4 linked regions of the Homo sapiens genome follow. The protein of the gene in region 4 interacts with the protein of the main gene of each other region in a biochemical or structural test. Each region holds a gene or a part of one and is shown on either strand. Other genes may lie near its edges.

Region 1 (7,024 bases), on a different chromosome or scaffold from region 4:
TTGTGATTCTATTGTGTTTTTTCTAAAACCAATTGATCCTCTTAAGACAGCTTTCCTTTCAGAATAACACAACAGGATGTGTTGATCTTTTCTTTTTTCTTTTTTTTTTTTTTTTTTTTTTTGAGACGGAGTCTCACTCTGTCACCCAGGCTGGAGTGCAGTGGCGCAATCTCGGCTCACTGCAAGCTCTGCCTCCCGGGTTCACGCCATTCTCCTGCCTCAGCCTCCCGAGTAGCTGGGACTACAGGCACCCGCCACCACGCCCGGCTAATTTTTTGTATTTTTAGTAGAGACGGGGTTTCACCGTGTTAGCCAGGATGGTCTCGATCTCCTGACCTTGTGATCCACCCGCCTTGGCCTCCCAAAGTGCTGGGATTACAGGCGTGAGCCACCGCGCCCGGCCGATCTTTTCTTTCAACTTTTAGATATCTGTTCTCTTGAAGGCCAGGGCCCACCGCAGAACAGAATCAGGGCTGAGGCTAGACCAAAGGTACACTGAATTCAGTGCCTCCCTAAGTGCTGCTGAACACTAGAACCCAAAGATGTTCACAGACAAAGAATCCCAAGGTCAAACGTACTAGGGAGACATGGCGCCCATCCCCTACACTCTACCATGGAGAGTATGATGTAAAGGAACACACAGATTCTGCAGAGCAGGTTCCATTTTGTTTAACCCATTGCTTCTCAAACTTTTTTGAACAATGGAATCTTTTCAGTATTGGCAATATTCATATATAGCTAACATTTATTGAGTGTTTATCCCCATTTAATTCCCACCTACACTTTTAATCTATTTTGGTAGACTGACATTTATAATTTTTTTTATTTTTTATTTTATTTTATTTTTTTGAGATGGGGTCTCGCTGTATCACCCAGGCTGGAGTGCAGTGGTGCGATCTCGGGTCACTGCAAACTCCACCTCCCGGGTTCATGCCATTCTCCTGCCTCAGCCTCCCGAGTAGCTGGGACTACAGGCGCCCGCCACAACGCCTGGTTAATTTTTTGTATTTTTAGTAGAGATGGGGTTTCACCGTGTTAGCCAGGATGGTCTTGATCTCCTGACCTCGTGATCCGCCTGCCTCGGCCTCCCAAAGTGCTGGGATTACAGGCGTGAGCCACCGCGCGTGGCCGATGTTTATAATTTTTTTTGGCCAGTAGCAATTTTATTAATGATAATAAAATAACTCAAAGATATTATCAAATCTAATCTTGTTCACCTTCATAAGTGCTCAAAGCAAGACAAAAACTCATCAAAAGAAGAAAAATTAGAACAATTAATATTTTTAATTGAAGGATGGCTGAGACACTACGTAATGATGTTGGCACATCATATAGTAAAAAGTTAATCAAAACATATTAAAAATAATGAGAGGAGTGCACGTCCTTGTTGGCCATATTTCTCTCTTCAGATTTTTATGAAACATTTATGACGTAAAAATCTTTTTCTCATGCCAAAAATGATTAAAACTTGTTTTTTAAAAAGAATGCTTAGATATCATGTCTTTCATGGCCATCTCTAAGTCCTCTCTGAATTTCTAAAATTTCGAATGCCAATACATGAAGGAAATAATTGTGTGTTACTTTATAGAATGTAACAAAGTTTGCCAGAGCATAGAAACCACATATAAAGGATGGTTTCCACTACAAAAAGAGTTCAATGTCGGGACAGGGAAGTATATTTCATTCAAAAACAAACAAACAAAAAATCCAAATGCACTTTTTTTGTCCTTTCCTAGCAGAAGAACCAGGTAGTCATATAATTAATTATAACTCTCATTTCCTTTCAAATGAACTTTGGATATTCAAAATACGTGTGTGTGTGCGTGTGTGCGTGATCTATCCATGGTAAGTTTTATGATGCTAGCATTCTTTAAAACTCAGTTTTATCTTTTGGAGATAAATCTGGCTTTTTTCCCCCTAAGGTTTATTTGTATGTCATTTTTCTTTTTTTCTGAAAAATTTAAAACTTGACATTAAAAAAAGTTTTAACAACCAATAATGTGTAAATTATCTTAGGTTATTAGCTGAAACACTGCAAATTATCCTCAAATGGCATGTCAAAGGAAAGATGGATTTGCGGAAATATTTCTTGACCTGCTTCCCCATTTCCCGCCCCTGCTCGTCCTGTGCCTCACCGCTCGATGTGGTCTGCACAGAGGTGTGCCTCTCACACTTCCACTCTCCTCGGCCGTTGCCTGTGCAGATGCACTGGAGCAGGTTTCCTCGATTATCCTTCTTGCTCCAGGTGTCTCCAATTCTATAGGATGTCCTTGTGTCCTGATCGTTGCATCTATCTGTGTCACAAAGGAAGCACATACATACATCAGGTCGAGAGTCGCAAGTGGTCAATTCAAACTTAAAAAAGGAATGCTATCTATGCCTGGTAATCTATTTTTGGTAATATGTTCATATTCAGCTCTGGTGCTGCAAGGTATTACACTTCTGAAAGATGAAATTACATTTGTTACAGTGGAAAGGCAGCTGAATGGTTTAGTCTAGTTTCATCTCTCTGTCAAATAACATTTTCATTTATCTATTTATTTATTGTTTTCACACTGTTCCTTTGACTAACTTCATTCTCTGGCATTATATTTCATCTTTTTCCTTCTCAGGCTCTTCCAGGATTTTTCTTAGTCATCACTGTTTATGGCCTGCCTTTCAATAGGGACCTTGCTTTAGAAAACTAAAAACAGGCTAAGCGCGGTGGCTCACGCCTGTAATCCTAGTACTTTAGGAGGGTGGATCACCTGCAGTCAGGAGTTCAAGACCAGCCTGGGCAACATGGTGAAACCCCCGTCTCTACTAAAAATACCAAAAAAAATTAGCCGGCTGTGGTGGCGGGCGCCTGTAATCCAAGCTACTCGGGAAGCTGAGGCAAGAGAATCGCTTGAACCCGGGAGGTGGAGGTTGCAATGAGCTGAGATCACACCATTGCACTCCAGCCTGGGCGACAGGGTGAGACTGTCTCAAAAACAAAACAAAACAAAACAAAACAAAAAAAACAAGCAAACAAAAAAAAGCTTATAACAATGGGGAGGCAAGCAGGTATCAAAGGGTCTTCACCAATGGCTACAAAGAAGCTATAAGAAGGTGGTAGTATCTCTTTCTTCATTTGTTATGTAAAAAATGTAGAGGATGCACAATTTCTTTGACTAAAATATTATTTTCCCTTCCCCTATACCCAAACATCTACAGTATTTAAAAATCACTAGCAAAATAGCCCCAAATTATTCAGTGTTAGCCCTCCACTGGAAGAGTGGGATCAACATAAAATGATAATTTGTAACTAAATGACCATTAGTCTATGCGTGCATTTATCTGGTAAATAGATTATTTAAATTATAATCCAAATTTGCTCTGTGCCACGATGTGAGTATAGAGGATCTGATGTCTTTGTGAATTGGATATTGTTGCAACTCCTGGGTTAGAGAAAAAAAATTAATAGTTGATGTAGGTTCAAACAAATACACACCCACATCCATCTACCACAAGAATAGAAGTTTGCATGAAGGTATAATTACTGATTAGAGCTTTTTCCCAAATCCCCAGCGAAAAGTATTATCATCCCCTGAACCTCCATAGCACTACTTTCAGTATTTCTGTTGAAATCTTTAATACTGTGTTTTGCAGATGATAAATATGTATAAGACTTTCTCATCTCCCTGACCCCCTAAGTACTCTTTGAAGGCTGGGCTAATGTTCATTTCATATCTGCACCCCTATAATACCTTGAACAAAGTAAGTCCTTATAAAATTTTCTGGAATAAATGACTTCTCTTTGAGAAACTTTTCCCAACTTGCTATTTAAAGAGTTCTAAATAACAGATAAGGTTTGAATCAGACATCTAATTTGTCTTAAGCTAAAATATTGCCACAAAGATCTTGGAAGTCTGATGATCACAGTAACATTTTAAATGCAAAATATCTAATAAACCAGCAAGTTTCTGGGAAAGCTTTGGTCAAAATGGTTACCACTTTTCATGAGAGACCTATTTTTGTTAGCAAAGAATTTGAATTTGGATGATGGCTATGTTAAAGGTAGTTAAATGGGTTCAGCTAGATAAATAAAACAGGTTCAAATTATTTGGATTTGATTTTAAACTTATTTACAACACCAGTAGTTAATGGCTGTTTTACTTCAACAAACTCTCTAGCTGTTATTAGTTTACAATATCAAAAAAGGAGCCTTCAAACCCAAAGGCAACAATTAAGACCCCAAGACAATCTTAGAAGGAGCAGTAAAGACACCAGAGGCCAGCTTCTTTACAGCACTAATCAAATGCGTTAGGTCAGAGACACTATCCCTAACTCCAGAGTAGATAAATCATTTTAATTTATGGGATAAATTCTTTTTAATTTTATCAATTTAGCCTGTGAATGTGCCCTATTTAAATTTCAAACATAGAAGGAAACCTAAACCTTTTGTTCAACTCTATGTCAGTGGCAGTGAGCTGAGATTGAACCTTATCAAAGTGATATGTTTTTCTATTTATGTAGTCTTCTCTGAAGATGCGGAATAAGTTGGTTATGAAAGTTTTCTTGACTTCCAGAAGTTACCAAAGCATGCTGATATACTGGATGTGTTCTGAGTAACATAGTATTACCCTTCTCTCTAGGAATCCAGAAAACAATACCTGGCTTAATCTTTAACATAAAGATGTAAAACATACTTCTAGAAGTGCAAGTGATGCGTCCGCTGCCTTCTCCCAGGCAAGTACAATCTACCATCATCCAGCCTTGGTAGGGCTTCTCCCACGTTTCTCCGACCACATAGGAAGTCCCAGCAGCATGATCAAAACACTTCTCAGCTGTAGGGAAATTTGGAAGAAAAACAGGAAAAAAAGGTTATTTTGAATTGTGCAAGCTCCCTGTAATTTAAAGTGTAGTGTGTAAGCAAAAATTCAGCCACATTTTTTTTAAGTGGCACTCTGTTCAGAAAGAATGACACACCCAGCATCTAAGCACACAGTAAGTAGCCAAGGCAAAAGAAAGCTCAAGCTGAGTTGGCAGGCAGAAATTCCATTCTCCTAATAAGTACATGGACTACATATTTTCAGCGAGCCCCAAACTTCCCAGCAGCATTTCCAGTAGCAAGGATCTATGTATGTATCTAGTCTGTGGGAGACTACATATGCAAAATTCCAATCTTAATTATAAATGACCAATTATGAATTTTGAGTGGCCTAAATACAATGACAAAGAAAGCTATTTTTAAATATTGGAAAGCAAAACAATACAAAACAAGACAAAAACCTCTAAATTAGAAGACAAGTAAACAGAGTAAAATTTATAGCCAGAAACTTTCAGGCTTGTACTTACAAAATTCAACTGAGGATTGAGATCCAAAGAAGCTCAACAACTTTTAATTTGAAAAGAAATGAGCAGAGTGTGACAAGCACACACTATTTCATGTTTCGGTCCAGGACATTCCATATAGAAATGTGTCCAAAGTGTCATTTTTTTTTCTTTTAAATAAATTATATCTTGACGAAGGAGGAATCTGAGATCAGCTATTAGGTAAAAGAAATGACTCCATTCTAAATCTTTCAATTCTACCTTATGCTTTTGAAGCAAAGTTAAGACTTCTATGTGTAGTCAGTACTTTTTGATCTAACTCCTGTAAGAAGACTATGGATTATATAATAATTCATTATTTCAAACAAAATTCCCATTTCTTTATTGGTTTTCACTGGAATTCAGGTCTATGACCTATGTAGATGTGATTCTGGTCCAACCCCACATTAGAACTAAGCATCCCAGCTCTTGCTCAGCCCTAAGACTCACACACCTATGGGCTTGCAGGTCCATTCTCCTTTTCCATTACCAAGACACACACACTCTAACATGTAACCACCAGTCTCATGTGGTCTCCTCCAGGTGTCACCAATCTTGTAGGACTGACCCCCTTCATGGCAGCGGTCTGTTGAAGATACAACGAAAATGTTAGGAGAGGGCAGAACAGATTTTTTTTTTTGGTCTCATATTCCACCCATGGTAGGTACTTAGGTTGGCTAAAGTAGAGACACAGACAACAGCTTTCCCATCAGAGACAGGGGAAACGTTAACAGGTCTGGTCACTTGGAGTCAATTCAGTTAAGTGTCTTGCTTAGAACACAATGGAAAACCACAGAGAAATCTGGATGGCAAGGAAGAGGTCATGAATCCTGCTTTCCCAGAGAGATCACAGGAAATTGGGTCCTAAGCAGAAAAGAAAGGCTGGGAGGCTTGGTCTTCACTCATACACAGCAGGCTAAGACTGAGACTAATTCAGTGAAAAGGCCACATCAGGCACAGCACTCCAGCTTTTGGGAGCATGGAGAGCCTGTATTTTACCCTAGGATAGAAATGTCATTTTGGTGGAAAGCAAACAGACATATGCATATAAAGTGTGGAAATCCTGGTAGTTTTCTAAGTTGTTAAGCCCAATGGCACATTCAAATGCTGAACTAGATTGTAAACACTATGGACCCTTGCCTCTTGCGATTTGCCTGTGAACTTGGATAAACCCTAACATGAAATATGGGGAAAGTTGATTGGGCCTATTCACACGGGACTTGTTCTTTTGAATAGAAGTCTTTAAGACGACTTATATTTAAAGAATGGATTAAAAAACTTAAATACTATCTTAATAGAATCTATTGGTAACCCAGTGAATCATACTGGAAAGAGTGCCTTAGCTAAACTAGAGTTGAGAATCAGCCCGGTTCCCAAAGTTCCTTAGCAAACTCTATTGGGTTAATAATTTTGTATTATCCCTAGGAATAGTGACATCTGCTTCCTGGGTATAACCTACTGGTCACCAAGAAACCAGACTGTTTCTGTGAGGTGCAAGAGGTCTCTGCATTGCAAACATGAAGACCAGACAACACATGGCTGGTTCACTCTTCATGAACACCTTCCCAGTCACTGCAGAAAAGTCTCATGATTTGTCTAGCTTGAAGATATCCAGGTGATTTAAAATGGGCAACTCCCCTAAGCATGTCTTACTGAAATGGAACCCAAGAGGTCTCTTGGTTCTACTATG
Region 2 (7,024 bases), on a different chromosome or scaffold from region 4:
AAAGAACTAGAGTAGGAGAATCAAAGTTGGGACATAAACTAGTTTTATTAGCCATCTACAAAAATAGCTCATTTGAAGAAAATATGGCATTAATCTGACTAGGAAAAAGGAAAGTGAGAGGAATGCATGGTATAAAAATAAATGTAGTTGTTCAAGCACAGCTGTTGTTATTTTTGAAATGTTCTTTGGCGTCAGTTCTATAGTCACATATTTTTAAATGTCTATGGTGCACATATTTGAAATGGCACTTACCAAAGTGTGAATATCTCCTTCACTGAGGGCAAGATCCCGCTTAGTGATGAGATGGTCCCGCTCACCTTGCCCGGCAACCGTGTCATTCTTTTCAGTTGTTTGCAAAGATGAGATCTAATGCAATCACATTAATAAAATGGTGGTAAATGATAATGAAAAACATTTTACATCAGCATTTTGATATAAACTCTTAGATATGATTAAAAAATAGTGAATGAAAATTTAGTATGACAGAATATTTACCACTCAGTATATAGTGAGCAGTAAGGACAGAAAATAAAGATTAGAGTCTTTAATATGTACCAAAAAAGTTAGCTCTCCCTAACCATTATTTTCAGCCCTTGCTTAGCTAGAGTGGAAACTGATGAAACATACAGAAATGGCCTGAAATTCCACAGTACATTTGTGATGTCAATCATGGGTATATCTTTTATTTTGTTTCTTCACCTTTCCTTAGATCATATTGTGTAATAGTTTCTAGTGCAAATCTATGATGGAGATGACTATATCCAAAAGTCAAGATAATCATGAGTAAAATGGTATAGCTTATCCCAAAGGTAGAAATTTTAACAACAAAACACCCTTGATGTGATATTATGCCCTGAAGAAACAACAACGTGATGGAGCCAAGGTCAAACTGAGTCACTGAAGGACACATCTCATGAGGCTCAGTAAGCACTCTATGAAGATGTGGTTCACTAGACATCACAGAATCAATTCTTACCCATTATACAAATGAACTTATCCTAAGTGTACTGCTTATGAACTAAACCATTTTTTGCAGAGTGGGTTTTATATTAAAATAGTTGTTTTATTTTATGAATTTCTTTTACAGGTTTAGAAAGAAGGCAATGAAATATCATTGTAATGAAGAGCTGCTATTAAGCATATTACCTTAATTCTCAAAGGGTTGATCTCCATATCTGAAGTGCAGTTCATTGGTCCATCAATATCATAATGAAGGATATACAACAGAGTGTTATTATTATATTTGTAAGGCCACTGAAGATGGAGCATTGCCTTGCTGAATGAACTTGGACCATTGTTTCTCAGCTAAGGAGAAAAAAGAAAATGTATCTACACCTTGGGCAAAAATCTGTTCCATAATCCTTCCCCTACATCAACTTTAGAAATCATGTTAGCAATAGGTTTTAAATAACAGCAATTTCCACAGTTAACCTCTAATTACAATGTGACCATTTTTATGCAAAAATGATCAAACTCAACATTTGTCTCTAACACAGAGTAATATGTGTCAGGATAAAAATATAAACAAGGTTGGGCACAGTGGCTCATGCCTGTAATCCCAGCACTTTGGGAGGCCGAGGCGGGCGGATCTCTTGAGGTCAGGAGTTCATGTCCAGCCTGGCCAACGTGGTGAAACCTGTCGGTGAAACCCTGTCCCTACTAAAAATACAAAAATTAGCCGGGCATGGTGGTGCACACGTGTAATCCCAGCTACTCAGCAAGCTGAGGCAGGAGAATCGCTTGAACCCGGGAGGTGGAGTTTGCAGTGAGCTGAGATCGCGCCACTGCACTCCAGCCTGGGCGACAGAGCAAGACTTCACCTCAAAAAAAAAAAAAAAAAAAAAAAAAAATATATATATATATATATATATATATATATATGTATGTATGTATAAACAAAAGGCAAAATATTTAAAAGTTATTAATGAAGGATGACAAAGAAAATTTCTTCCTATAGAAATAGTTTTGATTATTTGCCATAGGTATTTTCAATTTTTAGCCAGAACTACAAAATGCCCATGAGAAAGTACCAATGACATTTCTTTATTCAAGTAGAACTAATTTATTTTAAACAACAAATTATATAAACTGCTTTATTTAAACAAGTCTATTTGTCAAATAAAAATGAATTTATGTATAGGGAAAATATTCAAAGAAATCTCTGACACATACTTAACCAATGTAGAGTTTACATAAAAATTACATAGAATTTTTTTTTTAAAGTAGCTTAGTTGTTCCTCTCTTCGTTGGCTTGCTCACGAGGTTTGAGTAAAATCTAACAACTGCAAACCTCATAGATGTGCTGAACAACTGGCCCAACATCTTCTTCAGTCTCAGGGTTCTCCTTGTGCTCCCAGTTTGGAATCGGAAGAAAGACATGATCAGGACTCGAGACTCTAAACAATGACCAAAGAAAACCTACCATGAATATCAAAATGATATAGTCAGTTCATTTTCAAAAGTACCCCATATTCATTACTCAAATAAATAAAATTAGATTTAATTTTAAAAAATACTTTAAAAGAAAACTAATGAACACACACATGCACAAAAACTGCTCTTATGAAATGTACACGTAACAGGTGAATTGACAATTTGTGTAAAAGTTCAACAAAATTATTTTGTGCATGTTGTTGCCATGTCTTGTTCCTTTTGAGGATCACCCAGTATTGGGGGTTTGGAACATACCTAGGATTTTATTTCTACAGAAGCTAATGCCCTAGTAAAACCACCACTAAACATGCAGGGTCTATTGTCCAGAAAAGGCTAAGGCCTGACAGTTACCTTTAAAAAGCAATCATGAGAATGAGATACTCAACTAAGTATTCATACTGACCCTCTTATCTCAACTGCAGCTAAAACAGCAAGATCAACTTTGTGAGATACAACTGGGCTTACTTTGTCAAATAGATTTGAGCTGAAAAAGAAAAAAAAAAACTTAAAAATGAATTATGCATAACAACCAAGAACATACAGAGGCAAACCCAGTGAAACTAAAAATTAACAAACGAAACAAGTGTAAAGCTTATACCTCAAAATAGTTATTTTCATTAACACTTAATTCCAAGAAGATGAACATTTTCTTTCTGGATTTTAAATTTTGTTTTACAAACTCAAATCTGACAATAAAATTATTCTTATAATGTAAATATTGATTTTAAAATGCTATAGTCAAGCAATAAAATTTAATCTGCTACTTTATATTTAAAGTATATTACATAGTATATTTACAACAAATAATATTTATTTGATAGTTATAAGTGAATATAAGTTGTTTTCATACCTTTGGATTTGTAAGTCAAATTTCACAGAAGTATCCATCTCTGACTGCTGGTGCACACTGAAACGAAGACCAGCTAAGAGCTAAAGGAGAGAGGAAAAGATAGTAATGCTAGTCAATGTCTAATTAGCAAAATTTCAAATCCAATGTCTAAATAAAAAATAATGTTCTAAAATGGGGTTTTTCTGAGCTTACAATAAAACTGAACAAAGATAACTAAATCTTATTTTCTATCAAACCTATTTTACTTAATATACCTGGACCAATCCATAAGAGAGCCTATTTAACAACAATTATTAATCATAATTATACCTCCTTATAATACTAACCATCTTTCTAAAAAGTGCAAAAGTAAATGTTTGTTGATCCAGTGAAAGTCTAGCAACTGGGTACAATAATTTGATAACACGAAGCTAACCACCAAAGTATGTGCTGTGTTCATAGGCCAGGAAAGAAGAAATGGATGGTTTACTAGAGTAAGGGAACATGGCTAAAGAAGGCATGAGTAGGGCCACAACCAGAATTTCTCCACACACCTCTCATAACACTCCCAACACCAAATATCCTAATTCCTGCAGGCAGAAAATTGGTAGATTTTAAATAAAACAATTGAACCACCAGGTACAAAAAAGAAGGCTTCTTGGGGATCACACAAATGACATATAAAAACAGTACTTCCTGGGTTCTGCCTCCCACTCCACAAAACCTGGAGCTGGCTACTTGTAATAAGCAGAAACTATATAATAACCAGAAAGTTAGAGAGAATGAGAATATGAGAAAATAAAAGGCATGCTCATTGTTAATAAAACATTGAATACACGTGAAAAACTGAACTTAGGGTAATTTGTTCAAGTTCTCATCCCTAAGATACCATACATCTAGAAATACTAATGACTTGTAATAGAAAACATACTAAAGAAATATGGAATATTTAGACCTGTATTACCACAGATCTTCAAAGTACCAGTATCAATAAGTCATTAAATAAATTCTATTGAAAAAGTCACACAGCATATGCTGCCATTTTGTCCTTGCTACTAGAAATTCTACAAGGTATATTTTGTTTACTTTTTAGAGGATTCGGAAAGCAAGCCATTGGCTGCTTCTTTTCAAGCTCCTGGGCACCCTGCTCCACCATCTGAAGGGGAGCCTGATTTAACTGACCTTCACTTTGATCCTCTGTGTGGGGCCTGTGATGGAATCTAGCTCACCTAGGATTGACAGTCTTGGTAGTTGCCAGAGTAGCTTTTCAGGATCCATTAAGGCATCAGTGTAAAATAGCAAAAATTATTATTTCAGTCCTTAGTTTAAACCACGTTCTCATCCATTCACTAAAGTGAAGGAGGCATAAAGAGCAGCTGATTGCAAACCGTGTAGGAGCACAACCAATTGTTTTCGTATCTTAGTTAAAACTAAGCAAAACTCTGCTAATCATTTAACTATTATATCGAAACCAATTTAAGGACATTGTTTTGAAGTGTTTATTTTTAAAAATTACTATGAGCCCAGACAACAATATGCTTTTCTATTTGCCAGGGAGAAAAATCCGTTTAATTAAATTGTCTTACTTGAGTTCCAGCCTTCATTGGGTTTCCAAGGTCACATACCACCTGGCGAGTTTGGTTTTCTGTCTTAAATGCACAGGAAAGTCTTGCTAAGGCCTTTGATAGACCAAAAAAAAAAAAAAAAATGGATATGAAAGGAAATAAAGTATCACGCAGTTGGATATTTCAGTTTCTTGTCCTAAGCAAATAAATCTAGTTGAGCAAACCAGGAGGTAAGGAAAAAGCCAGAATTGGGTACAATTGCCACATGGAAATGCAGAAGTGTTTCTGAAAGATCCCTAGAGGACTACCATACAAAACCATACAGCCTCTGACAAATAATTTGATGGACAGGCTTAGACACTTTATCTATCTAACCTTGTTTCCAGGCACTTAGCTTGCAATTCTAAAAATGTCATATCAATGCATTATGCAAAGTATTAGGCTTAAAAGGAATTATGTAAGATAGGCACTCCATTGTCTATCAATTTAGCCTTAGGTAGAATAGCTAAGCTTGTGCTTCACTAAATAGGGGAACAGCTCATTAATGTTAATAAGATCCGTGAGTGCATTTCAATTTTTAAAGAGGCAGCCTGCTTACTTCATTGTTTCGGACAACCCCGATGAAATCAGCCTGCAGTGGAATGGAAACGATGAGCTCAGCTTCGTAGGCACCTTCTCCTTGATTCTGAGCCTTAACAATCAATGTCAGAGGGTTGTCATCCCCAATATAGATCTTCTTTTGATCACTACAAGTTAACAATACAAATCCAGACTGAGAAAAAAAGACTACATGGGGAAAGTATGACTGTTCAAAGAAAGAAGAGATAAATACACAGCACTGACATGTTCAACAGTGTCTCAAGGTATTTTAAGACTACTTCACAGCTTGATAGAAAACAGAAAATAGCACACTGGGTGCAAATCGAATGCTTCTCTCAATAAAAATAAACATTGATGCCACTAATATATCACTATCATTCATATCTATTACTGAAGTGAATTACATGTACTTTGTAATTCCCCAATATTTTTCTAAAAGCTAAATTAATCACGTGTCATAATTCTCACAATATTCTTTATAATTCATATGCCTTACAAAATGGTAAGGATATTCCTTGAGTTCAAAGAATGTTTATGATGAAGTGTATCTTTAAAATGATACAATATTATTTTGTGATATTACCCAAAGTTGAATGGTAATAACTCTTTCAACCTAGGCAACTAGTGAAAACACAGTGGATATTTTCTTTAGAAGCTCAATATTGATAGTTTTAGTGTTATAGAAAATCAGGCATTACCCTCCAGGATAACTAATTCTCGTTAAAATATGTTAGTCCTTTGAATAGAAAAATGTGCCCTTCCATTTAAATTTCTTACTACATTATTATTTCAAGCAAAACTTACCTATCTACAGAAACTTCCAGCTTGGGTTTACAGACATTGTCTTCACCACAGTCAAGTAGAATGTGAGCCTAGAAAAAAACATTTTATTTTTCTACATGAAAAATACCAATGCAGGTGGCATAAGCAGTGTTTATCAATATCTATGTGGTTAAGCCTATATGTACACATGTATATATTTTCAGATACTCATCAGCTTGTTTGTTGTATACCTGAATGCAAAAGAGACCATGGCCACTTATTTTTAAGCAGGTCAGTGTAGCCAGTCAAGAAAGAGAAAGAAGAAAAAGATTCATAGGATATGATACAGTTCCTTGGAACCTTTCAGTTTTATCTCAGATTAAGCTGTTATCATATTTGAATGAAGACTGGTGTAGAAAAGAAAGTAATAGCCAAGAAATGAGGCTTCATTTTTACCCTGCTGCTAGTTAAGTTGTGAGATGTTGGGCAAAATAGACTCCCTTCTAGAGTTTCTCATTATGGACTGTGCCTCTACCAATATCAGGAAATAGGGCTGCAGAGGATAAAAGAATAAGGAGCTGTAGATATTCAGCAGCAATTCAGACAGGCAGAGAGACCAAGGGGCAAAAGAAACTGGATAAAATGAGTCCAGCATTGCATGGTCATTTGGAAAAAGATGAAGGAAAAGGAACTTGAAGCATTATAGTTAACCAATCAGGGTAGGTGAAAAAAACAAAGACCTGAACTTTTTCCCCACTAGATCTGGCCAGGAGAATGTTCCAGCTAGAGCAAAATGGAAACACCCAAAAGAGAGAAACAGTGGGAAAAAAGCAGA
Region 3 (7,359 bases), on a different chromosome or scaffold from region 4:
GCTGCTGGGGAGGCTGAAGCAGGAGAATCGCTTCAACTCGGGAGGCGGAGGTTGCAGTGAGTCGAGATCATGCCATTGCACTCCAGCCTGGGCGACAAGAGCGAAACTCCGTCTCAAAAATAAAATAAAATAATAATAATAATAATATAGCTGCCATGGTAGACACTATCCTATGTTCTCTCTCTTAATCCTCAAGACAACCTAAGTAGGTTTTTGTTCCCTTCATTTTATAAATGAGAAAACCACCAAACCATCTCATGGCTTTTTCTGATGCAAACTGATTTCTAGTCTCACAAGGCCCGTGGAGCCCTCCAGGACCTGAAGATGAGTCAGCCGCGTGCCCCTACTCCTGCCCTACACACCTAACAGGGGTGGCAAATGCAGCCCTGAGTTGGGGGGCACTCAGCAGGGCCAGGAGCGGGGCGTGAGCCAGAGCTGTGGGTGCTGCAGGAGAGGCCCCAGCCCTGACCCCCATGGCACAGAGTCTCATCTTCATGCATTCAGTGCCCTGGCCCCCACCTCCTGACTGGGAAACTTCCAGGAGTGGCGGCACAGACCACACGTTTTCAAGCCAAGTCCTCCCTGGCCTTTGTTCTCCCTCCCAACTTTCTTTTAATCAGTCGGAAACGCTGCCCGGCTGCAGCCAGAGGCCAAGAAAGCCTTGGAGAAAACACAATCGTCTTTTCCTAACACCTCCTCCTCTCCACTCCCTCCCACCCAGCTCTCAGTAAAGCCCAACGGGACGGACAGACACAGGACAGACAGGCGGCTCCTCTCGGCCGTTTGGCAAGAAAGATCAGCGCCCTTCTCCATTTAAGCGGCCGTCGCCAAAGGAGTTTCTGCAGATCAGCTAACAGGCTCACCATCTGCGGCCCCACAGCTCTCTGAGAGCAGGGGCGGTGCCACTTGTGGCCTTACATACAGGGCTTCGGGGGCCTCACAGCTGCAGATAGGGGCCAGGCAGTCTTCAAAAGCCCCTTCCCAAACTGTACCAAATTAAACCTGTTGAAACTCAAAGAGACTTCTCCCCAAAAGAAACAAAAGGCCCACAGGACATCCAGCTGCTTTTATCGAAGTGTGCAATTAGGAGGCTTTTTTAAACCCTTCCAATTACAAACTTCTCTGTGGCTCAGCAGTGAGCCACACTGGGCCCGCAAGTCCTGGGGTGTTCATTCAGTCACACACACATAGGGAGAAATTGTTCGCAAACCGCAGACAGAAAAGAACAGTGAGAGGGAACGCAGAGACTCCGGGGCCAGGGAGAGTTTTACCACGCCTTCTCTCAGGCCCTCAGCTTCCTCATCGACACAATCGGGGCCTCTGAGGCTCCTTCCTTTTCTAACAGGAGTCTCGGATGTCCCACCCACCCATCACCCAGGGCCCCTCGGGGTTTTCCCTCCAGCTGGCAGCCACCCGGCCTGCTGCTTGCTGGAATGCCCTCTTCCCGCGCTCCCCTTACATCAAGCTCCATCTCTTCTAAAGAGCCTCCAGGGAGCCCCCAGGGGCTGCGAAGGCTCCTGGTGCCAACACTGAGCTCTGCGCCTCCCCACACCATCTCCAACCCCACGAGGTGCCCAGGCCGTGCCCAGCACCGCCTGAACAATCAGAGCTCCACAGGGCTCTGCTGCAGCCAGCCAGTCAAGAAAGCTCTGTAGAGCTCAGCTCCCAGCCTCCCCTCCCCCTCCAGCCCCCTTCAGCCCCCTTCCTGGAATCCCCCAGTGAGCATTAGTTGGGACAAGCGACCTTTTGACTAACAAAGGCGGTCACCAGAGGTTAAAAGGAACTCAACTAAACCAGGGATTAAGACTCGGATTCTGAGGGTGGTCTAGGGCACTCCCCTGGACCTGGGCCACTGGAGAAACAAAGACGCCAGGAGTGCCGGGCCTGGCTAGTGGCTCTGAGAAGCCACGGGTCAGCAGAGAGGTCACAGGTCATAGCTCTGCCGCCCAGCAGCTGCTCTGATCAGAGGACCTCGTGGCAGTCCCCCCAGGGACCAGGCCTTGAGGGTTAGAGGGGAGAAAAGCGCGGGCTGGGTGGGCACTGTCCCGGAGCTGTCAGTCCCAGAGTTGGGGCCTAAGGTCTGGGCCATCGATCAGATCTGCTCTTGGAAAACTCCATCCCCCTTGCCGTTGGTGGAAGTGACCAGTCCCCAGTCCCCGCTGAGCACCGAGCCCGGCAGAACCACTGCCTTGGGCCCTCTGTCCCGGGAGGGAGGCAGGGAGGAGGTGGCCAGGTCCGCATCCCCTCCATCCTCCCAGCTACGCCCCAAAAACCTCCAGGCTGCTCCCTGGCTTTCTCATTTCTTCCTCTCCAGCCCCTATCCCAGGACCGCTAGTGTCTCCTGGGGAAAAGACTGCTTCCCACCCTCCAGGCTCAAGTTTCACATCCGCAAGCTGGGTACAACAGCTCCTACCTGGGGGTGGAGGCGGGAAGCGGTGAGGAAAGATAGCCGAGGGCGCTTCCAGCGTCAAGTGCAAGGCGCCCTGGGCTCGGTAACCCCCAGCCAGCGTCCCCCAGCCCAGCTAGCGCCCCTGAACCCCCAGGGCCCGGGATGCGGCCCCCGGAGCCGGCTGGATTTGCTAGGACTGGGGTAGGACGGTGTGTTTGAGGGGTGGGGGAATCCGGTTTTGAAACAAGTCCCCAGGCCGGGGAGGAGATGAGGACCGGAGCTGGCCGTGGGGGAGGGGGGCGTCGCCGAGGCCTCGGCGCTGACAGTCCGGGGGCGCCGCGCAGGGCAACGCACGGACTCCGAGTCCCCGTGGTTCCGAAACTCGCAGGGAGCGCGAGGCCGAGGGGGTCGGGACCCTAAGCTGGGGCGGCGGACCCGGGACGCCCCTACCTCCGGCCGCCAGCAGCGCAAGGCCGCCGAGCAGCAGCAGCGGAAGCGGGACCCGGCGCGACGGCGCGGCGCGCTCCATGGGCGGCGGGCGACGGGCGGTGGGCGGCGGCGGACAAAGGCGCGGGCGCGGTCCTGGGGCAGCGGCGCGGGCTCCACGCTCCGGCCGAGCCTCGGCAGCCAACGCTGGGCCAGGGCCGCGCCGTTCAATTATCCCGCCCGGGAGGAGGGCGCGGCGGAGGCGGGGCCGCGGGTCTCCTGGTCCTCCCTCCCCGGCGCCCCCTGCCGGGACCCTCCCTCCCCGGACCCCGGCTGCGAGGGGCGCGCGCCCACGGCTGGGGGCGAGGGCCTGGATCCCAGACTTCCCCGGAGGGGGCACAGAGGGGGCGCCTTCGGGCCGGATGCCCCCAGTCCTATCCCCCAACACTCCGTGAAACCCGATCCCCTCCTCCCCCCACCCCCTCTCGAGGGGAGGGCTCGGGATCAAAGGTTATCCCCGCCCGACTCCGCGCGGAGGAGCGGGGACCCGGGCCTGCAGTCGGAGGCCCGGCTGCTGGGGGGCACTGGGGCAGGCCTTACCGCCAACCCCGCACCCTCGGCCGGGAGGCTGCAGGTCGGTGGCTAACCCCAGGCGTGTCCCGGGATGGGACCCGACTCTGCCCTCAGAGACAGGGACAGTCGGGCCAGGCCAACAAACAACCAAAATCCCAACGTGTGCTGGGCTCACCCGGGACACCAGGGCCGGAGGGAGAGACCCGGGAAGTCACCGAGGCTGCAGGGGAGGCAGCTTTGGCGCTGGGCCTGCGGGAGCCTCTTGTATAGGAATTCATAGCTACCGGGGTTACTGAGGATGAGTTAGGCTTTGGAACCACAAGTAGATTTATTTTCCAAAGAAGAAGAATAAAATGGTGCAGGTGAAGATGCGGAGGAACTGGATGAGACGCATAGGAACGCCACTGGGCAGCTCAAAGCGGTGTTCCTGTGAGTTCACCATGGACCCCTTGAGCCACCGACGCCCCGCCCAGCCTTACACTCAGCAGAAACGCATACAACATGTGCTCCAAAAGACAGAAAGACATGTAGCCGCACATTCATAATTCCTCCAATTGGGAAGCCTAGCGTCATCAAGGCAGATGAATATCGTGGAGTATTCGGGCTTAGGAGCACGACAAACGGAACAGGAGTGAATGATCCGCAACTCACATAACGGGTAAATCTCACAGACGTAAGTCAGAGTAATAGAGTCAGCCACAAAGGAACACTCGCTGCATGATTCCATTTACATAAAAGGCAAGAACAGGCCGGTGGCGGTGGCTCACACCTGTAATCCCAGCACTTTGGGAGGATGAAGTGGGCGGATTGCCTGAGGTCAGGAGTTCGAAACCAGCCTGGCCAACATGGTGAAACCCTGTCTCTACTAAAAATAAAAATAAAAATAAATTAGCCAGGCATGGTGGTGCACACCTGTAGTCCCAGCTACTCGGGAGGCTGAGGCAGGAGAATCGCCTGAACCCGGGAGACGGAGGTTGCAGTGAGCCGAGATCTCACCACTGCACTCCAGCCTGGGCGGCGGAGTGAGACTCCGTCTCAAAAAAAAAAAAAAAAAAAAAAAAAGGCAAGAACAGTTCAGAGGTCAGGAGAGTGGTGATCCTGGAGTGGGAGCGTGCTGGGCTTTCGGGGGCTGGTTAGGTTCAGCTTTCTTACTCTGGGTATTGGTTACAAGGTTGGGCTCAGTTTGTGAGAATTTATTGAGCTGTTCATTTATGGTACGTGCCCTTTTCTGAATACATGTTGTTTCTTTCTGTTTTTTTGAGATGGTGTTTTGCTTTTGTTGCCCAGGCTGGAGTGCAGTGGCGCAATCTCAGCCCACTGCAACCTCCACCTCCCGGGTTCAAGCGATTCTCCTGCCTCAGCCTCCTGAGTAGCTGGGACTACAGGCATGCACCACCACGCCTGGCAAATTTTGTATTTTTAGTAGAGACGGGGTTTCTCCGTGTTGGTCAGGCTGGTCTTGAACTCCCGACATCAGGTGATCCACCCGCCTTGTCCTCCCAAAGTGCTGAGATTACAGGCGTGAGTCACCGTGCCCGGTCACATGTTAAATTTTAAAATGAAAAACAAAAGGACAAGAACTCATCTCCCCACAGGGTGTCTTATAAGTTTGAAGTTTGCAGAGAGCCCAGGAAAGCTTACCAAGGGGACCAGCATGCTCACGCCTCTGAGGTTAAGGAGGCCCCTCAGGAAGAGGTGACATGCGACTGGCCAGTGAAAGGTGAGCAGAGGTGGGAAGGGTTTCCTTGGTGGTGCCAGCTTTCCTGATGTCTCTGCAAAAGTTTGGAGGCACCAGAGATCCTGGTCCGTTTTGACTTTGGATGGGGTGGGGTGCGGAAACAGCACATCAGCAGATGGCCCGAGGGAGGCATTTCTGAGTTGGAACAGGTTGGGAACTCATTACTACTTTGGTATTAACTTAATTCGTTTAAGCCATCGGAGAATGGGGTGCCCTGGAAGGAGTCTAGATGACTAAGGGAAGGTGGTGGAGGGCGAAGGGGGAACCAGGGGACCTGGGGGATTCAGAAAGAAGACGTAGAAACAGGCAGAGGGGTAGAAGGAAACCAGGAGAAGGCAATATCCAAGAAGGAATCAAAAAGTGATTCTGGGCAGGGCGTGGTGGCTCATGCCTGTAATCCCAACACTATGGGAGGCCGAGGTGGGTGGATCACTTGAGGTCAGGGGTTCGAGACCAACCTGGCCAATATGATGAAACCCCATCTCCACTAAAAATACAAAAATTAGCTGGGCATCGTGGTGCATGCCTGTAGTCCCAGCTACTTGGGAGACTGAGGCAGGAGAGTTGCTTGAACCCTGAAGGCGGAGGTTGCAGTGAGCCAAGATTGTACCACTGCACTCCAGCCTGGGTGATAGCAAAAAAAAAGTGATTCTGGCTGGGACTGCCCAGTGTGGCCCAGTGCTCAGTGAAGCCAGGACTGAGAAGTCCCAATGGGGATGGAGCAGGTGGCCGCTGGCGATGTGACCGGGGCCCTTTCTGGGGATGGGGAGGGAGTGGCTGTGTTGTGGGTGGCTGAGAAGGGGGTGGGGATGAGGAAACAGGGACAGTAGGAGGAGGTGACTCCTACATTCAGCTAGGCACTGACACTGCCCTAGGCAGGCAGAGGGACTGCTGGGAGGAGGAGGGCTGAGCCAAGCCTGCAACAGCTGGGGAGGGAGGCCAGAGCCAGGAGAGAGGACATGGAAACCTGGCCTCTCCCAGCCTTTCCTGAAGCTTCAAGAGCTTACTCCTGTTCTGAGGCACAGCCCCCACCATTTTTTTTTTTTTTTTTTTTTTTTGAGGCAAGTCTCACACTGTCACCCAGGCTGGAGTGCAATGCCACGATCTTGGCTCACTGCAACCTCTGTCTGCCGGGTTCACGCAATTGTCCTGCCTCAGGCTCGGGGGTAGCTGGGATTACAGGCACACACCATCAAACCCAGCTAATTTTTTGTATTTTTAGTAGAGACGGGGTTTCACTGTGTTGGTCAAACTGGTCTCGAACTCCTGACCTTGTGATCCGCCTGCCTCAGCCTCCCAAAGTGCTAGGATTACAGGCGTGAGCCGTGGCGCCCAGCCAAGGCGCCCCCTTTTTAGGCACTCACTCTAGTCCTCATCCCAGGCCTGTCCTCCATGGCCTCTCCACATCCTCTTGTCCCTGTGGCTGGTGACTTGGAAAGCCAGGCACTGGGTGTCAGGGAAGTAGGCACCACCATGGACCCCTATCCCCCAGGACAAGCTAGAGGTCCTGACAGCCTGGGACAGGGTCTGAGGCCAGACCACCTGGGTTCCAATCCAAGCTCGCTACTCTCTGGCTCTGTGGCATTGAGCATTTGACTTCTTGGTACCTTGTTTCCTCATCTGTCACGTGGGGCAAGGATTAGGACTTTGCACTTTGCACGGTCGTGAGAATTGAAGGAGATGCTGACTCTCATCACATAAGCCCCACAGAGAAAACTCTGTAATGTAATCACTGTCAGCTGCTGTGCTGGTGGTGACAGTGATGTGCCTTCAGGACCACACAGGGGAGCACCAGTCCTGACCCCCTCCTCATTCACTGTCTGGCTCTGGGCAAGTCCCTTTCTGGGCCTCAGTTTCCCTATCTGCAAAATGCAGGAGATGGACCAGGATGCTTCTAAGCATGCTTCAGACCCCAAAACCCAGGCTGACTCTCGGCCCCCTTCTCTAGTTCTCAGCACATCCAGCTTCCAGAGGCCCACTGGAAGATCATAGGCCTGAGATTCTTGCAGTCCAGGTGAGCCACACCCAGGTGCTGGGAGAAGAACCCATCATGGGCACGGGCATTCCTGCACATTCTTGCTGAGTATGCCACAAATGCAAAGCCCTGGTCACTCTGTACCCGTGTCTCAGGGTCGTGTTTGCAAAAAGCAACCTCAAAGGAGGAGGTACCATCTCCCTCTGGACAAGTTTACCGGAAAATCGGTAAATTCCCCAAACTCAGTGTTCTCCTGTG
Region 4 (7,417 bases):
CGCTATAGCTGCTCTCTCCGTCACAGAGTGACACAGTGACTTTCTGAAGCCCAGGCTCCAAGGACACAAGGCCATTACCTTCAGGATGGGAGGTTTCCTCCAGGCTCCTACCTTATCTGTTGGCTGCTCTGGCTCTTGTTCACAGGGCCGCACCATGCAGAGCCGAGTCTGTTTCAGCATCTCACATTGACGGTTCCTATTGGTGACCCGGGTGGAGAACCCCATACCACAGCTCTTGGAGCATGCTGTCCACTCTGTGGTCTGTTCAATGCAGTTGACACTTGAGTCAGAGACTTCTACTCCTAGGGTGGCTTCTGGCCTGTAAGCTATGGGATGTATAAATAAAGACAGCCATATTAGGTACAATGTGAGGATTGGAAAGTGGTCCTTTTCAGCCATTATTAGAAACTGGGTCTCATTCGACTCTGTACCTACTAAACACCCATGCTCCCAGGACACAGAACTGAATTTATTTATCTATTTATTTATTTCTGGCATGGCTGATAATGTCTGCCCTCAGAAATAGTATACAATTCCGGATACTGCTAATATAAGTAATCTGGCTAATTAATGGCTTCTAAAATAATCCTCTATTGTCTCTTGAGATTTTTTATTTAAACTATTTCATTGATAAGAGAAAACAAAAATAAGAATAAAAAAAGGTCCTGAAGTGCCATCTGAGCCTTACTACAGCATCTAGAAAGATGACACTTTTCAGTGACACCTGTGCAGGGATGAGTAGCCTTCTTTAAGGAGGTTAATCATGAGACGGCCTAGGTAGTGTACAGAATCCAGAAAAGAAAGAGAATTTAAAATTTTGTCTTTGTAGTGCTAATGAGGGTCAAGTGGGATGGATTAAAATACAAGTAGTAGTCATCCAATAAGACAAAAATAAGACAAAAGAGTGAATTTGGGAGGTCCTCTTCAGGAGAAATTGCAGCAACCTTCTATAACTTAGTTTGAGTTTATAAATATGTTTGATCTAATGTCTACAAATGTGTTTGATCTCAGTGGGCAACCTGAAACCCACAACTGAATGACCAGAAACTGAGGCCAGTTTCTCTTTTCAAATCCAAGAGATTGCAAATTCTTCATGTTTGTATTTACCCTCTACTATGACCAGCCCTAGGTATATTGAGTTTCTCACCTGCAAGGGTAAGGCCTCCCAGTGAATCCTCCTCATCTGGGCCACAGATCCACTTTTCACAGCACTCTCCAGGCACCTCAACTTTTCTTGGAGCTGGGCAGTTAGGCTCAGGCAGTAGCACATCCAGCTGACAGCGGGGCACACAGCCAATCTGCCCATCTCTGCAGGTGCACTGGAATTTGCAGCTTGGCTGAAATTTCTCTCCACTGCGGTAGATGACCCCATCGAACACACAGTTATCTCCCTCTACCGCTAGAATATTGGGGAAGCAAAGTGAAAAGCAAAGAGGAAGAGGAAAAACAAGAACACAATACAGTGAAGAAGCTATGTAAGATTTGGAGGGCATGTTCCAAAACCCAAGTCCTTTTCTAGTTCAGGCGATCTGGTTTCTCATGTATCTACTGTAGAGTGATGTCCTCATGGAGGCCTCTCAGAGCAAGAAGAAACCTTCAAGATCATCTAGTCTTGCCACTCATTTTATGGATGAGGAAAGAGGTGTGCAACTGTGAAGTGATGTCCCCAAGGTCCCCTGGCCATTTTTCCCAATGTTCAGTCATTTTGCGAGAACCTCCTTAGAGTTTCCTACTCCAGCAGCTTAGACTTAAAAAGAGAAAAAGTGTACTTTATGTTTTCCAACAGGTTAGCTGATCAAATTGGGAAGGGCATTAAGATTCCTTGACACTCAAGCATAATAAAATCATCAGTAGCTTAGAGAAAAAAGTAAAAGCCCTCCTGTCCAGAAAGGAAGGGACAATCTTCAACTACAATGTTGTATCATGTGAAAAATTGATCCCCGACTGATTACGTTTTAGAAGCCTGGATTGGCTAGTTGCCTGCATTTTATTTTACTTGCAGCCAGAAAAGGGTTACATAGTTATCCCAGGAGACTAGCAGCTGCTTTGGTTCAAATGGGACAATTACAGGTGTGAAAACAAACCTGCTGGGTTTTCCCCAACTGCAGTTTGGGAAACTGTGAGCGTGTGAGTAAACCCGAGCTTCCATCAGCCCCAAGTGGCCCCCTAGAAGTGTCCGAAGGAAATGACTTCACTGGCCCTTAACTCTGCGTGGCTCCCCCTTTGCTTAGATTCTTGTCTAGGAAGCCAAGTGAGGAATGCCTTTCACCCCCAGGGCAGGTTTCCTTTCTGGCTCTGGCGCTCCCCAAAGCCCCAAGTGCTCCCCAAACCATGCCTGACACACAGTAAGTGCTCTATACATGTCATTTATTGCATTATTATTATTTGCTTATCGCCCTCTGGGAAGGGGAATACAAAAGAGAAGGGAGGAAGCAGCTTCACTTAGCTGCAGGAGAAGAGGTCAAACAGCAGAGGGAGCAGGATTACCCGTGCAGATGCCAGTCTGGTTGCTGGGGTCCGCGCTGCGATCACAGTAGAGGCCACTGCTCTCGTCGCATGGCTCCAGATCTGAGCAGCTCTCGCCACGCTGGCGGGCACACACCAGACAGCATGAGCAGCCGTCCAGCACCGCGCGCACCCCGGGGGCGCAGGTCGGCGGCGTCGCAGGGCACCGGCCCGGGCACTGGGGAGGGCAGCGCTGAGTCGCAGCGACCTGAAGGCAGGCGAGACAAGGAGAAACCACTCAGCTGGGACAGAAGACGCAGTGAGCCCGGTGACCAAATGGGGGCCACCAAGGCGGGCAAAGTAACTTGGGGGCATCTTAAGGGTGTGCCACTTACCTGTCCCAGGAGATGGAGAAGCAGGAAGGTCAGGCAAAGGCACTGCTTTCGGAGACAAAAGCTCGTGCTCTGCACACTCTGCATGCTCAGGCTTTCCCCTCTCGCTTTTACCAAACGAGACTTTCTTCGCTGTAGATTGGCACTGCTCGCCTTCCCCCTGGTCCGGTGCTTGCCGATCACGCCCAGCACAGGTTTTATAGCGCGCTCCTGGGACGCGCACAAGCCGGTTGGCTGCAGTGCAGGGAGGAGGGGGGAGATCGGCTGGGTGGGGAAGTGGAACGAACCCCGGGGTTGCCATGGCAATTGGCTGTGGGTGCTGCTCTCCTTAGGGCGCGGCGCCGGGGCCTGCGTGTGCCTGTGTGTGGCGACTGGCTTTTCCCAGAGGGTGGGGAGGGGCTGGGTGGAGTTCCGAGGCCAGGACCCAGGGCTCGCTCGAGCGCGTGGGAAGGAAACGCCCGTTTCCTCCTGGAAGTTGCTTCGCCTTCTCCCAGGACGAAGACACCACCACTCCCCACCATCCTCCTCCACCCTGACCGTTCCAACCAGGGCTGCAAGCGTGGGGTCCCCTTACGGGATGCCTGCAGTTTGGGGCCATCTGCAGGGGATTGGCAGAAGGCCCAGGGGTTTAGTCATGAGGGAAGCACATGCAAGTTTGTCACCGTTTAGGGCACTCATTGAATGTGTTGAGAGGGAGGGGAGAGAAGCAAGGGAGGAAAGGAGAGAAAGAGGAGAAAGAGAAAAGTGTGTGTGTGTTGGGGGGAGGGGAGTGGCAGGGGGAAGGGAATCTAGAAAAAAAATCGATATGTCAGGAGGTGGGGAATGCTATTGGCCAAATGGCAAAATTCTTTTGACTCTAATCCTTCTAGCTTCACTCAGTCTTAAACCCCAAGGTCCACAGGTTTGTTAGAAATAAAAGTAAAACACACACACACACACACACACACACACACACACACACACATAAAGAAAACATCATAAAATAAAACAAAGAAATCTTGGCAGAAGAAAGCCTTGAAGCACCTGCTGTAGCAGACCAAATGTGAGACGGCACACCTGAGAGTCCAGAAACCTTTGACAGTTTTCTAAGTGGGTTCAGTTCAACCACCATCACCACCATCAAAACCTCCAGCCAGGGAAGAAATGAGGAAGAAACTGGCTTAACTTGGCTGACCCTTCAGCAAATCAAATCCTTCTCTCACCGGGCATCCGCTTTCAAGAAATGATTGCTGGGGCATGCTTGTCATCTCTCATGGGAAAAAGGGAGCAGTTTTACTGCTCCAAAGGTGACATTGTTTGAAGGATTTAGAACAGTTTCCCCCCACACTTCAACACTGGTGCTGCCCCTAGGAGAACTATGCCCAGCTCTTTTGAGGATAGTTGCTTTGGAAAAAAACAAAAAACACTTTTTAAGGAAAATTATACAGGCCTGTGATGTAATTCTAGAGTTTAAAAAGAAACAAATGGCCTCTACCTCATCTGTCCCCAGCATGAAGGAAATCAAAGGCAGCTTGCGGAAGGGGCCAGGTCTGCCTCTGCAACACCCGCAGATGATGAGGTCACCTCAAGCCCCTTCTAGATAATTCTCTCGGCAGCCTGAAACCACTATGACACACTTCCAAGCCTCTAATAGTTCTGCTTTCTTTGAGGTAAATGAGACTGAGTAGTACTCAAACTTAACTAGAGATGAAACAGTTCATTTGCACTCTTGAGTAGGACATTTACCTACTCTTCAAATTGATAGGCTTTGGAGGGTGGAGGGTGGGAGCAGGGAGAAGATCGGGAAAAATAACTAATGGGTACCAGGCTTAATACCTGGGCGATGAAATAATCTGCACAACAAATGTCCATGACACACATTTACCTGTGTAAACAAACCTGCACATTTACCCCTGAACTTGAAATAAAAGTTTAAGAAAAAGATAAAACAAAAAACAAAAAAACTGATAGGTTTTGTAAGCCATTTGGCCTAATGATGCCTCCATCTGGCTGCAGATCGAATCAACCAGCATGTATTTTGTTAAAAATACAGATTCCTGAGCCCCACTCTTGACCCACTCAGTAGGATTCTCTGGTGGTGGCTCTTGGTAGACAGCATTTTAATGTACTTTGAAATGGAGCAACTAGAAGCACTGCTAATGGGGAGGCAAAGAGCATCGGCCAAGTGTTCCAAGCATGAATAGACTCAGATAGAACAAGGAGAAATTGGCAACATGGAGATTGGGCTAGCTCTTCTTGGAAAGAGTGGGGTGGGAGTGGTGACAGGGAAAATGTAACTTTAAGACAAGGATTAACATGTCAAGAAGTCACTGCAAGTGTAAAATTGCTATTCAGTTTTGATTGCAAGAGATGGAAACCAAACTTGAACTAGTTTTTGCGAAAAGAGGACTTTACTGGAAGGATGCTGTGATGTTTCACATAGTGACAGCACAGGAATGGTACAGGGAGTCCTCAGAGGCAATTGGGATCTAGAGAGAGGAGGGCCAACAGGATTACTTCCACATAAGGGAAAAATGATCCTTCCAATCTTCTTACTTTATGACCTTATCACCACAGAAGGAATGTCCCTGTCTCTTAGGCCCAACTTTAAAAGTTCCAGGAATTAAATTGGATGGGTTCACCCTGGACTAATCAATGGGGACAAGGAAGGTGAAGTATGGGGATTAGTTAGAACCTCATGGTTGGAATGGAGAGAAAGAGCAGTTCTCTTGGGAAGAAAGGACTGTTCCTTAAAAAGAAAGCAAGCTTGGTGAGCAAAACAATACACATCCACTCCATCATCTGCTATAAATGCTCTAGGATGAGGATCTTCATCTTAAAACAATTGTAAATTGAAAGTGATACCATCTGATGATAATCATGTCATGTCATGCTTCACTGCCTCCAGGACATAGTCTCTGAAATCCTTCATGCCGGGATAGATGTTATCCGCAGTGCAGGCCTGGGATGCCGAGCTTATCTCTTTTATCTCATAACTCACTGGATAATCATTATAGTCACACCATTTAATGATGGGGATATTGTTGGAGAAATGTGTCCTTGGGTGATTTCATTGTTGTGTGAACATCATAGAGTGTAGTTACACAGATGCGGATGGTGTAGCCTACTACACACCTAGGCTGTATGATATAGTCTATTACTCCTAGGCTACAAACGTACAAACAGTACAGAATATACTGCACTGAATACTGTAGGCAACTGTAATACAATGGTAAGTATTTGTGATTTAAACATATCTAAACTTAGAAAAGGTGCAGTAAAAATATGGTATAAAAGATAAAAAATTGTCCACCTGTGTAGGGCACTTACCGTGAATGGAGCTTGCAGTGGGTGTCAGTGAGTCAGTGGTGGGTGAATGTTAAGGCCTTGGACATAACTGCACACTACTATAGCCTTTATAAACACTACACTTAGGCTAAGCTAAATTTATTCAAAAATTTCCTTTTTCAATGATAAATTAACTTTAGCTTACTGTAACTTTTTTACTGTATAAACTTTTAATTTTTTTAACTTTTCGACCCTTTTGTAATAACACCTACCTTAAAACACAGATACATTGTACAGATGTACAAAAATATTTTCTTTATATCCTTATTCTACAGGCTTTTTTTTTTTTTTTTTTTTTTTGAGATGGAGTCCCTCTCTGTCACCAGGCTGGAGTACAGTGGTGCAATCTTGGCTCACTGCAACCTCTGCCTCCCTGGTTCAAGCAATTCTCCTGCCTCAGCCTCCCAAGTAGCTGGGACTATAGGCACACACAACCACGCCCAGCTAATTTTTTGTATTTTTAGTAGAGACAGTGTTTCACCATATTGGCCAGGGTGGTCTCAATCTCTTCACCTCGTGATCCACCTGCCTCGGCCTCCCAAAGTGCTGGGATTACAGGCATGAGCCACTGTGCCTGGCCTCTATAAGCTTTTTTCTAGTTTTAATATTTTTATTTTTTTTTTTTTTGTGAAAAATAACACACAAACATACATATTAGCCTAGGTCTACACAAGGTCAGGATCATCAGTGTCACTGTCTTCCACTCCACATCCTGTCCCACTGGAAGGTTGTCAGGGGTAATAACACACATGGAGCTGTCATCTCCTCAGATAACAATGTCTTCTTCTGAAATACTTTCTGAAGGATCTGCCTGAGACTGTTTTATAGTTAACTTTTTTTTATGAGTAGAAGTATGCTCTAAAATAATGATGAAAAGTATAGTAAATACATAAACCAGTGACATAGTCACTTATTATCATCATCAAACATGGACTATACATAATTATATGTGCTATACTTTTATATGCCTGAAAGTGCAGTAAGTTTGCTTACACTAGCATTACCATAGACACATGAGTGTGCTACAATGTCATGACAGCTACTATGTCACTAGGCTATAGGAATTTTTCAGCTCCATTACAGTCTTATGGGACCACCATTGTACATGCCGTCCGTAGGTGACCAAAATATTGTTATGTAAGATGTGACTGTACTTGTCTGTTTTGGTGACTGCCTCCCTGTCCTGCCTGGGAGTCCTTGAGGACACAGAGCATGTCGTATTTACAGTAACATCCCCAACATCCACCTCAGGG

What was found.
Region 1: the proteins of CCN3 (region 4) and FN1 form a complex in vitro, tested with the Homo sapiens proteins (one study listed by BioGRID).
Region 2: the proteins of CCN3 (region 4) and ITGAV form a complex in vitro, tested with the Homo sapiens proteins (one study listed by BioGRID).
Region 3: the proteins of CCN3 (region 4) and FBLN1 form a complex in vitro, tested with the Homo sapiens proteins (one study listed by BioGRID).

The regions. Positions count from the first base shown.
Region 1 is NC_000002.12:215,426,045-215,433,068, forward strand, and holds part of FN1 (fibronectin isoform 1 precursor), read right to left. Parts: intron 5,921-7,024; coding exon 5,789-5,920; intron 4,809-5,788; coding exon 4,671-4,808; intron 2,295-4,670; coding exon 2,136-2,294; intron 1-2,135. UniProt on the Homo sapiens protein: Fibronectins bind cell surfaces and various compounds including collagen, fibrin, heparin, DNA, and actin. Fibronectins are involved in cell adhesion, cell motility, opsonization, wound healing, and maintenance of cell shape.
Region 2 is NC_000002.12:186,663,043-186,670,066, reverse strand, and holds part of ITGAV (integrin alpha-V isoform 1 preproprotein), read right to left. Parts: intron 6,300-7,024; coding exon 6,232-6,299; intron 5,574-6,231; coding exon 5,426-5,573; intron 4,942-5,425; coding exon 4,849-4,941; intron 3,364-4,848; coding exon 3,284-3,363; intron 2,918-3,283; coding exon 2,837-2,917; intron 2,397-2,836; coding exon 2,291-2,396; intron 1,306-2,290; coding exon 1,147-1,305; intron 367-1,146; coding exon 253-366; intron 1-252.
Region 3 is NC_000022.11:45,498,545-45,505,903, reverse strand, and holds the start of FBLN1 (fibulin-1 isoform D precursor), read right to left. Parts: upstream 3,022-7,359; 5' UTR 2,919-3,021; coding exon 2,840-2,918; intron 1-2,839. UniProt on the Homo sapiens protein: Incorporated into fibronectin-containing matrix fibers. May play a role in cell adhesion and migration along protein fibers within the extracellular matrix (ECM).
Region 4 is NC_000008.11:119,412,040-119,419,456, reverse strand, and holds the start of CCN3 (CCN family member 3 precursor), read right to left. Parts: upstream 3,012-7,417; 5' UTR 2,925-3,011; coding exon 2,841-2,924; intron 2,714-2,840; coding exon 2,488-2,713; intron 1,400-2,487; coding exon 1,148-1,399; intron 327-1,147; coding exon 112-326; intron 1-111. UniProt on the Homo sapiens protein: Immediate-early protein playing a role in various cellular processes including proliferation, adhesion, migration, differentiation and survival. Acts by binding to integrins or membrane receptors such as NOTCH1.